2 linked regions of the Homo sapiens genome follow. The protein of the gene in region 1 interacts with the protein of each later gene in a pairwise test. Each region holds a gene or a part of one and is shown on either strand. Other genes may lie near its edges.

Region 1 (3,500 bases):
TGAGATCTCACTATGTTGCTCAGTCTGGTCTCAAACTCCTGGTCTCAAGCAATCCTCCTTCTTTGGCCTCCCAAAGTGCTGGGATTACAGGTGTGAGCCACTGTGCCAGCCAAATATAAGATGTTAACAGAGGAAACTGAGTGAGCCATATATAGGAATTCTATGTAATATCTTTGCAACTTTTCTATAAATCTACAACTATTCAAAAATCTAAAATTTTATTTTTTTTAATGATCTGAGGCCTGCCAATAGCCATGGGAGTGAGCTTTTAAGCAGATCCTACCCTAGTTGACCCTTGAGATAACTGAAGCTCCAGCTGACATTTTAATTATACCCTTATAAGAGACCCTAGGCTGGGCATGGTGGCTCACGCCTGTAATCCCAGCACTTTGGGAGGCCAAAGTGGGTGGATCACATGAAGTCAGGGGTTCAAGACCAGGTGGGCCAACATTGGGAAAACCCGTCTCTACTAAAAATACAAAAATTAGCCAGGCTTCGTGGAGCATACCTGTAATCCCAGCTACTCAGGAGGCTGAGGCTGGAGAACAGCTTGAACCCATGAGGCAGAGGTTGCAGTGAGCTGAGCACACCACTGCACTCCAGCCTGAGGGACAGAGTGAGATTCCATCTCAAAAAAGAAGAAAAAGAGATCCTGGGCTAGAAGCATCCAGCTAAGCTGCCCCAAGATTTCTGATCCACAGAAATTATGAAATAATAAAAGTTTGTTGTTTTAAGCTGTTAAGTTTTGGAGCAATTTGTTACACAGCAATAATAACTAATAGAGTATACTTCCTTTTATGTAGAATATTCAGAAGTATCCCCCACAAAAACACTGGGATAATTTGCATTCCATTTGTTTGATAGTTATATTCTTCACTGTAAATAATAAATTCTCATTCTAGTTTTTACAACAGATTCCACAGCAAATTTACTTAGCCTGAGGCCATCCCAAAAAACTTATTTTGAAGTATAAAAGCAAAATATATGTCAATGAATGCCAAATCTACATTCCTATCCAGATTAATTTCCTACTAGACACATTCACTCGGACAGTACATGGCATCTCAAAATCAACACACCCGATATTCCTGTATTTCCTATGTCAGTTAAAATTCTCAGCATCCAACCCTAAGCCAAAAATAATTCATCCTTGACTTCTTTTCACTCACCCATGCACAGCCTTTCTACTCAAGCACTAAACCCTGCTGATAAATAGCTCCTAATTTTCTTTTTTTTTTTTGAGATAGAGCTGGGACCACAGGTGTGCGCCACCATGCCTCGCTCTGTTGCCAGGCTGGAGTGCAGTGGCACGATCTGGGCTCACTGCAACCTCTGCCTCCTGGGTTCAAGCGATTCTCCTGCCTCAGCCTCTCAAGTAGCTGGGACTACAGGTGCGCGCCACCATGCCCAGCTAATTTTTGTATTTTTTGTAGAGATGAGGTTTCACCATGTTGGCCAGGATGGTCTCGATCTCTTGACCTCATGATCTGCCCACCTTGGCCTCCCAAAGTGCTGAGATTACAGGTGTGAGCCACTGTGCCCAGCCAAATATTTCTTAAAGAGAGCCTCCTGTATCTATCCCTAATACCATTGCTCTAGTTTAAGTATTCATCATCTCTACTGGTCCTTCTCCTAGTCTTCTCTCTTCTTACCCTCCCAATATCTACCCTCCACACTTTATTTATTTATTTATTTATTTATTTATTTAGAGACAGGGTGTCACTCGCCCAGACTGGAGTGCAGTGGCACAATCTCAGCTCACCACAACCTCTGCCTCACAGGCTCAAACGATTCTCCTGCCTCAGCCTCCCAAGTAGCTGAGATTACAGGCATGTGCCACTATTGCCCGGCTAATTTTTGTATTTTTAGTACAGACAGGGTCTCACCATGTTGGCCAGGCTGGTCTTGAACTCCTGACCTCAAATGATCCACATGCCTTGGCCTCCCAAAGTGCTGGGATTACAGGCGTGAGCCATCATGCCCAGCCAACTCTCCACACTTTAATCAGAACTATCTAATTAAAACACTACATCTGGGCTAGGTGCAGTTGCTCACACCTGTAATCCCAGAACTTTGGGAGGCCGAGACAGGCAGATCACGAGGTCAGGAGTTCAAGACCAGCCTGGCCAACATGGTGAAACCCTGTTTCTACTGAAAATACAAAAAGTAGCCAGGTGCGGTGGCAGGCACCTGTAATCCCAGCGACTCGGGAGGCTGAGGCAGGAGAATTGCTTGAACCCGGGAGGCGGAAGTTGCAGTGAGCTGAGACTGTGCCACTGCACTCCAGACTGGGTGACAAAACAAGACTCCGTCTCAGGGAAAACAACAAAACAAAACAAAAACCCACTACATTGGCCGGGAATGGCGGCTCATGCCTGTAATCCCAGCACTTTGTGTGGCCAAGAGAGGTGGATCACTTGAGGTGAGGAGTTTGAGACCAGCCTGGCCAACATGGTGAAACCCCGTGTCTACCTAAAAATACAAAAATTAGCCAGGCGTGGTGGTGTATGCCTGTAGTCCCAGCTACTCAGGAGGCTAAGGCAGGAGAATCACCTGAACCTGGGAGGCAAAGATTGCAATGAGCTGAGATCACGCCACTGCCCTCAAGCCTGGGAAACACAGTGAGACTGCATCTCAAAAACAATACAAAAAAACCCAAAAAGCACTACATTGATCATCAATCTTAAAAGCCAAGCTCCATAGGGTAGCACACAAACTTCTCCAAGATCTGGTTCCTACCTACTTCCTTATTTTACAATGTTTCACCTGCTTAGAGTTTCCACTTCTGCCGTTATTTTGTACATCCATGCCTTGGATCTTACTGCGTCCTCAACTGTAAATGCTTTTCCTATTTTTCATTGCCCCACTAAATTTTACTTATCCTCCAACACTTAACTCATGAGTTGTCTCCTTCAGAAAGCTTTCTCTGAAGCCCTAGACTGTGTGAATGGCCAGATTCTGTGCTCCCCAAACACTCTGTGCTTACCCTATTTTGTCACTTGCTACAGTTTAATGTAATTTATCTATGTAATGGAATGTATCTGTATGCTCTTGAAAGTCAGGGACAGGTTCACTTTATGTACGTGCATTTTTTTTTTAGCTCATCCAACATTATAGAATGTACTTGATTTTTCTGTTTTGTTTTGTTTTTGTTTTTTGAGATGGAGTCTTACTCTGTTGCCGAGGTTGGAGCACAGTGGCGCAATTTCGGCTCATTGCAACCTCCGCCTCCTGAGTAGCTGGGATTACAGGCATGCAGTATCATGCCCGGTTAATTATTTTTGTATTTTTAGTAGAGACGTGGTCTCACCATGTTGCCCAGGCTGATCTTGAACTCCTGATCTCAAGTGATCCGCCAGCTTCGGCCTACTAGAGTGCTGGGATTACAGGCATGAGCCACTGTGCCAAGCTGTACTTGTATTTTTTATGGATGGATGGAAACATATACTGACCTACTAGGAATTCAGTAATGCTCTCAAATCAATTTCCATTTATTAATA
Region 2 (3,730 bases), on another chromosome or scaffold:
TAACTTCTCAGGCTTAAAAGCAACTAGGGACTCGAAAAAGGAGGATTTTCTTGACTTCCCCAAAGCACACATTGCTTTCACAGTCTCAATATCTTTTCAAATAACCTGTCCCTAGGATTTCAGCTATTCTAGTGAATGCTTCTTCCTATGATACCTGTCTCTTATAACCATGTTATTTCCTTTGAAAAATAGTTCATAAATTGGTGTGTGTGTGTGTGTGTGAGTGTGTGCATGTGTGAATTTACTTATGGGAGGCAAGTTAACATGTTCTTAGTGTTTAATATGGACCAGACTCTGGTAGTGCTTAGCTGTATTAAGTCATTTAATCCTCACAACAGCCCAGTGAGGGAGGTTTTATTGCTCTCTCCATTCTACAGATGAGAAAACTGATACTCAGATGGTTTCTTAACTTGGCTAGGTAATACAGGTAGCTAAGCGATTAAAGCAGGATTTCATACCAGGTCTGTCTGACGCATTTCCTTTTAAAGCAATAGTCTGTATTGCAAACAGTTGCAACAGCAATAATTCCAAGTGCAGTTTTCTCCTCCCATGTCCTCCCTACCCCCAATCCCATCATAAAACTCCACATGCTGATTTAACTCCTGAACTCTAGGCTGTTCCCTAATGTCCCTGTCTGTAGCACCCCCAACTCCTTCATCCTTGGGCAACTCTTGAGCTAGGTTGAAAACTTTGGTGTAGCAATGTCTATGAATAACAAAAAAACAGCACCTGTGGTAAGAGCTGATGCTTGCTGAGCGCAGTGTGATGAGGAATGACATGAGGCGTGGGATACATTATCTTCTCCAACCTTCACAGCCATTCTGGGAGGTAGATATTACCATTGTCCCTACTTTATGGATGAGGAAACTGAGGCGCAGAGAACTTTCCAAAGTCACACGACTAGGAAGTGTTAAGTTGAGATCTGACCTCAGAGCTCTGAGCTCTGTCTTTCAGTATACTCAGAGGATCTACCCATCCTATGCATTTTTCCTGGTGGTTCATGTGAGAACTCAGGCTGCCTAAAATCTCTAGATTGGGGTCGACTGGATCTGGAGCATACCTGGTCTTCTCGGGTTCTGTCTCTAAGGAAGATCTGCTTCTGTCTGGAGATGGAATTTGTCCTGTAGTAGTCTACCAGCTTATTTAGGGATGGAAACTTCTCAGTCCACAGAAAGTAATTACCCTTGTTGTCTCGCATGACCTTGAAGTGTTGAACGTCATCCTCATGCCTGGAGATCAAGGCAAAACAAAATTGTATGTTACACGGTGATAATGTCACCACCTCCAGGCTGCTCACATCTGGGATGGTGGAGTTCTCTTTGAGCAGGAGATGTAGATATGGATGACTCACTCATCACTGGGCAGGTGGGCCAGCCCAGTCAGGCTTCGGCAGGAACTTTGTAGGATGGACCACTTAGGATACAGGCTATGCTAGACGGGATTTACATCAGCAGAAGGTAATCAGATGAGCTAAAATTTGTTTTGGACACTGGAACTAACCTTTTACAAGAAAAGCATGTTCCAAGTGACTTAACGACAAAGAGATCAAAGACCTTTTCACAATGTTTATTCGCAAGATGTCAACAGGGGTATTTCAAGCTCCTATTATCTTTCTGTTACCAGAAATTCTTTGAACCATCTCCTTTAAGCCCATAAGCTAGCACTGGCAGGTAAGAAGCTACTCTCTTTCCTAAGAAATATGTCACATTTTTTCTCTATGTAATAAGGATCTCTTGATCTTGGTTTATGTTTTGCATAAATAAGGTTACAAAGTGTTTTCAGCTTTTGGTGAAATAGCTTTGTATGAAATACAGAGTTTTTGTTTGTTTGTTTGTTTTGTTTTTTTGAGATGGAGTCTCACTCTGTCGCCCAGGCTGGAGTGCAGTGGTGTGATCTCTGCTCACTGCAACCTCCGCCTCCCAGGTTCAAGCGATTCTCCTGTCTCAGCCTCCTGAGGAGCTGGGATTACAGGCACCCACCACCAAGTCTTTAGTAAAGACGGGGTTTCGCCATGTTGGTCAGGCTGGTCTTGAAGTCCAGACCTCCGGTGATCCACCTGCCTTGGCCTCCCAAAGTGCTGGGATTACAGGTGTGAGGCACTGCGCCCTGTGAAATGATAGAGTTTTAATTGGCAAGGATGTTGGAGATTGTTTAGCCTTACTTCTCCATTTTACAGATGAGGACACTGAGGCTCACAGAGGTGCAGGGGCTTGGTCAAGGTCACTGCTGAGTAAGGGCTGAGGCCAGAACCCTGAGTCTCTGACTCCAGTCTAGTGAGCTTGGCCTGTCACGCCACCTAAACATGATAACTTCTTTTTTCTTTCAAATGAGTTGGTTTAATTTCAGGTGATACAAAGTTTAGGGTAGAACAACGACCAAAGAGCAGATTCTGGCAAGATTCTGAGCTGGTTTTACTTTAAATTCACAGTTATGGTAGGAATGACTTAGTGAAAACAACTAAAGAGATGATGAGCCACTGGAAGATTTTTTTTTTTTTTTTTTTACAAAAGTTTATTCTTAAATGTACAACAGCTCCAAGACGACACTTAATTCCAACTATAGGTGGCAAAAGATATTATAGGAGGGAATAGAGAGGTTTAAATACGGATGAAATAAAGGGTCACCGTCTCCTTAGGCACAAGGAACAGCTTATTTTTTGCCAGATTTCTTAATTCCACCTGTGGCCAGAGGCCCCTTCCCCACGACCTTCGCTTTTAGCACCTCGAGTTTCTTCTGCTCCTCTTTTTGTTTCTGCTTGAAAGCCTTCTCTTCCTCGTCCATCTCCTTGGCCTGCTTCTTGGGCTGTTTCAGTGCCTTCTTCTTGCCACCTTCGTGGCTGGACATGGCGCCTGCCGCCCCTTCCCCAGACCCTGCCACTGGACGATAACTTCTTTTAGATCAGCACCTTTTGTTGCCAGTCTGGACTCACAAGTGATGGGACACATTCGAACCAGGGCTAGAGAAAATGGATTTTATCCATCTAGGAAGGGTGGGCTGAGCCTTTACCATTAGATCCAGTTTTACTTCATTGCCAAGTCATTCTCTTTTGGATGTAAAGTTTATTTTTCAAACAGACATACATTTATATCTAAAAATAAACTGGCACTAGTGATGCCAATTGCCTGATGTAAAAGAAAGGTCAAGAATTTTAAAGGGTCTCGGAGAGTAAAGATACCTCTGAGAGTAAGTGGAGGTTTCTTTTTGAGTCAGAGTCTCGCTCTGTCGCCCAGGCTGGAGTGCAGTGGCGTGATCTCTGCTCACTGCAAGCACCACCTCCCAGGTTCATGCCATTCTCCTGCCTCAGCCTCCCAAGTAGCTGGGACTACAGGCGCCCGCCACCACGCCCGGCTAAGTTTTGTATTTTTAGTAGAGACGGGGTTTCATCGTGTTAGACAGGATGGTCTCGATCTCCTGACCTCATGATCCGCCCACCTCAGCCTCCCAAAGTGCTGGGATTACAGGCGTGAGCCACTGCGCCTGACCATGGAGGTTTCTTAGGGATGGATTTAGGGACCTGTGTTAAGAAGGAGATGGAAATTCTGACCCTCAATCTCATCTTATGTGCTGGGATTTGCTCATAGCTGGGTGAAGCCACAGGTTGTACAAGTGGCCTCTTGCTTGACTGATTTCGGGTGGTAATCAACATATTGCAATCACTTTGTGGTCTTCCCCTTGGTTTTGGCCACCAACAGATACTTTCTTCATTCTAAGACAACATGGATCAACTCAA

The links. The genes of interacting proteins can lie anywhere in the genome.
Region 2: the proteins of PBLD (region 1) and GRAP2 interact in binary tests that used the Homo sapiens proteins (3 or more experiments, as listed by UniProt).

Annotation. Positions count from the first base shown.
Region 1 is NC_000010.11:68,322,929-68,326,428, forward strand, and holds part of PBLD (phenazine biosynthesis-like domain-containing protein), read right to left. Parts: intron 1-3,500.
Region 2 is NC_000022.11:39,963,489-39,967,218, reverse strand, and holds part of GRAP2 (GRB2-related adapter protein 2), read right to left. Parts: intron 3,300-3,730; exon of another isoform or gene 2,845-3,299; coding exon of another isoform or gene 2,650-2,844; exon of another isoform or gene 2,314-2,649; intron 1,230-2,313; coding exon 1,061-1,229; intron 1-1,060. Other genes in the region: TMA7B (translation machinery-associated protein 7B), read right to left, coding at 2,650-2,844. UniProt on the Homo sapiens protein: Interacts with SLP-76 to regulate NF-AT activation. Binds to tyrosine-phosphorylated shc.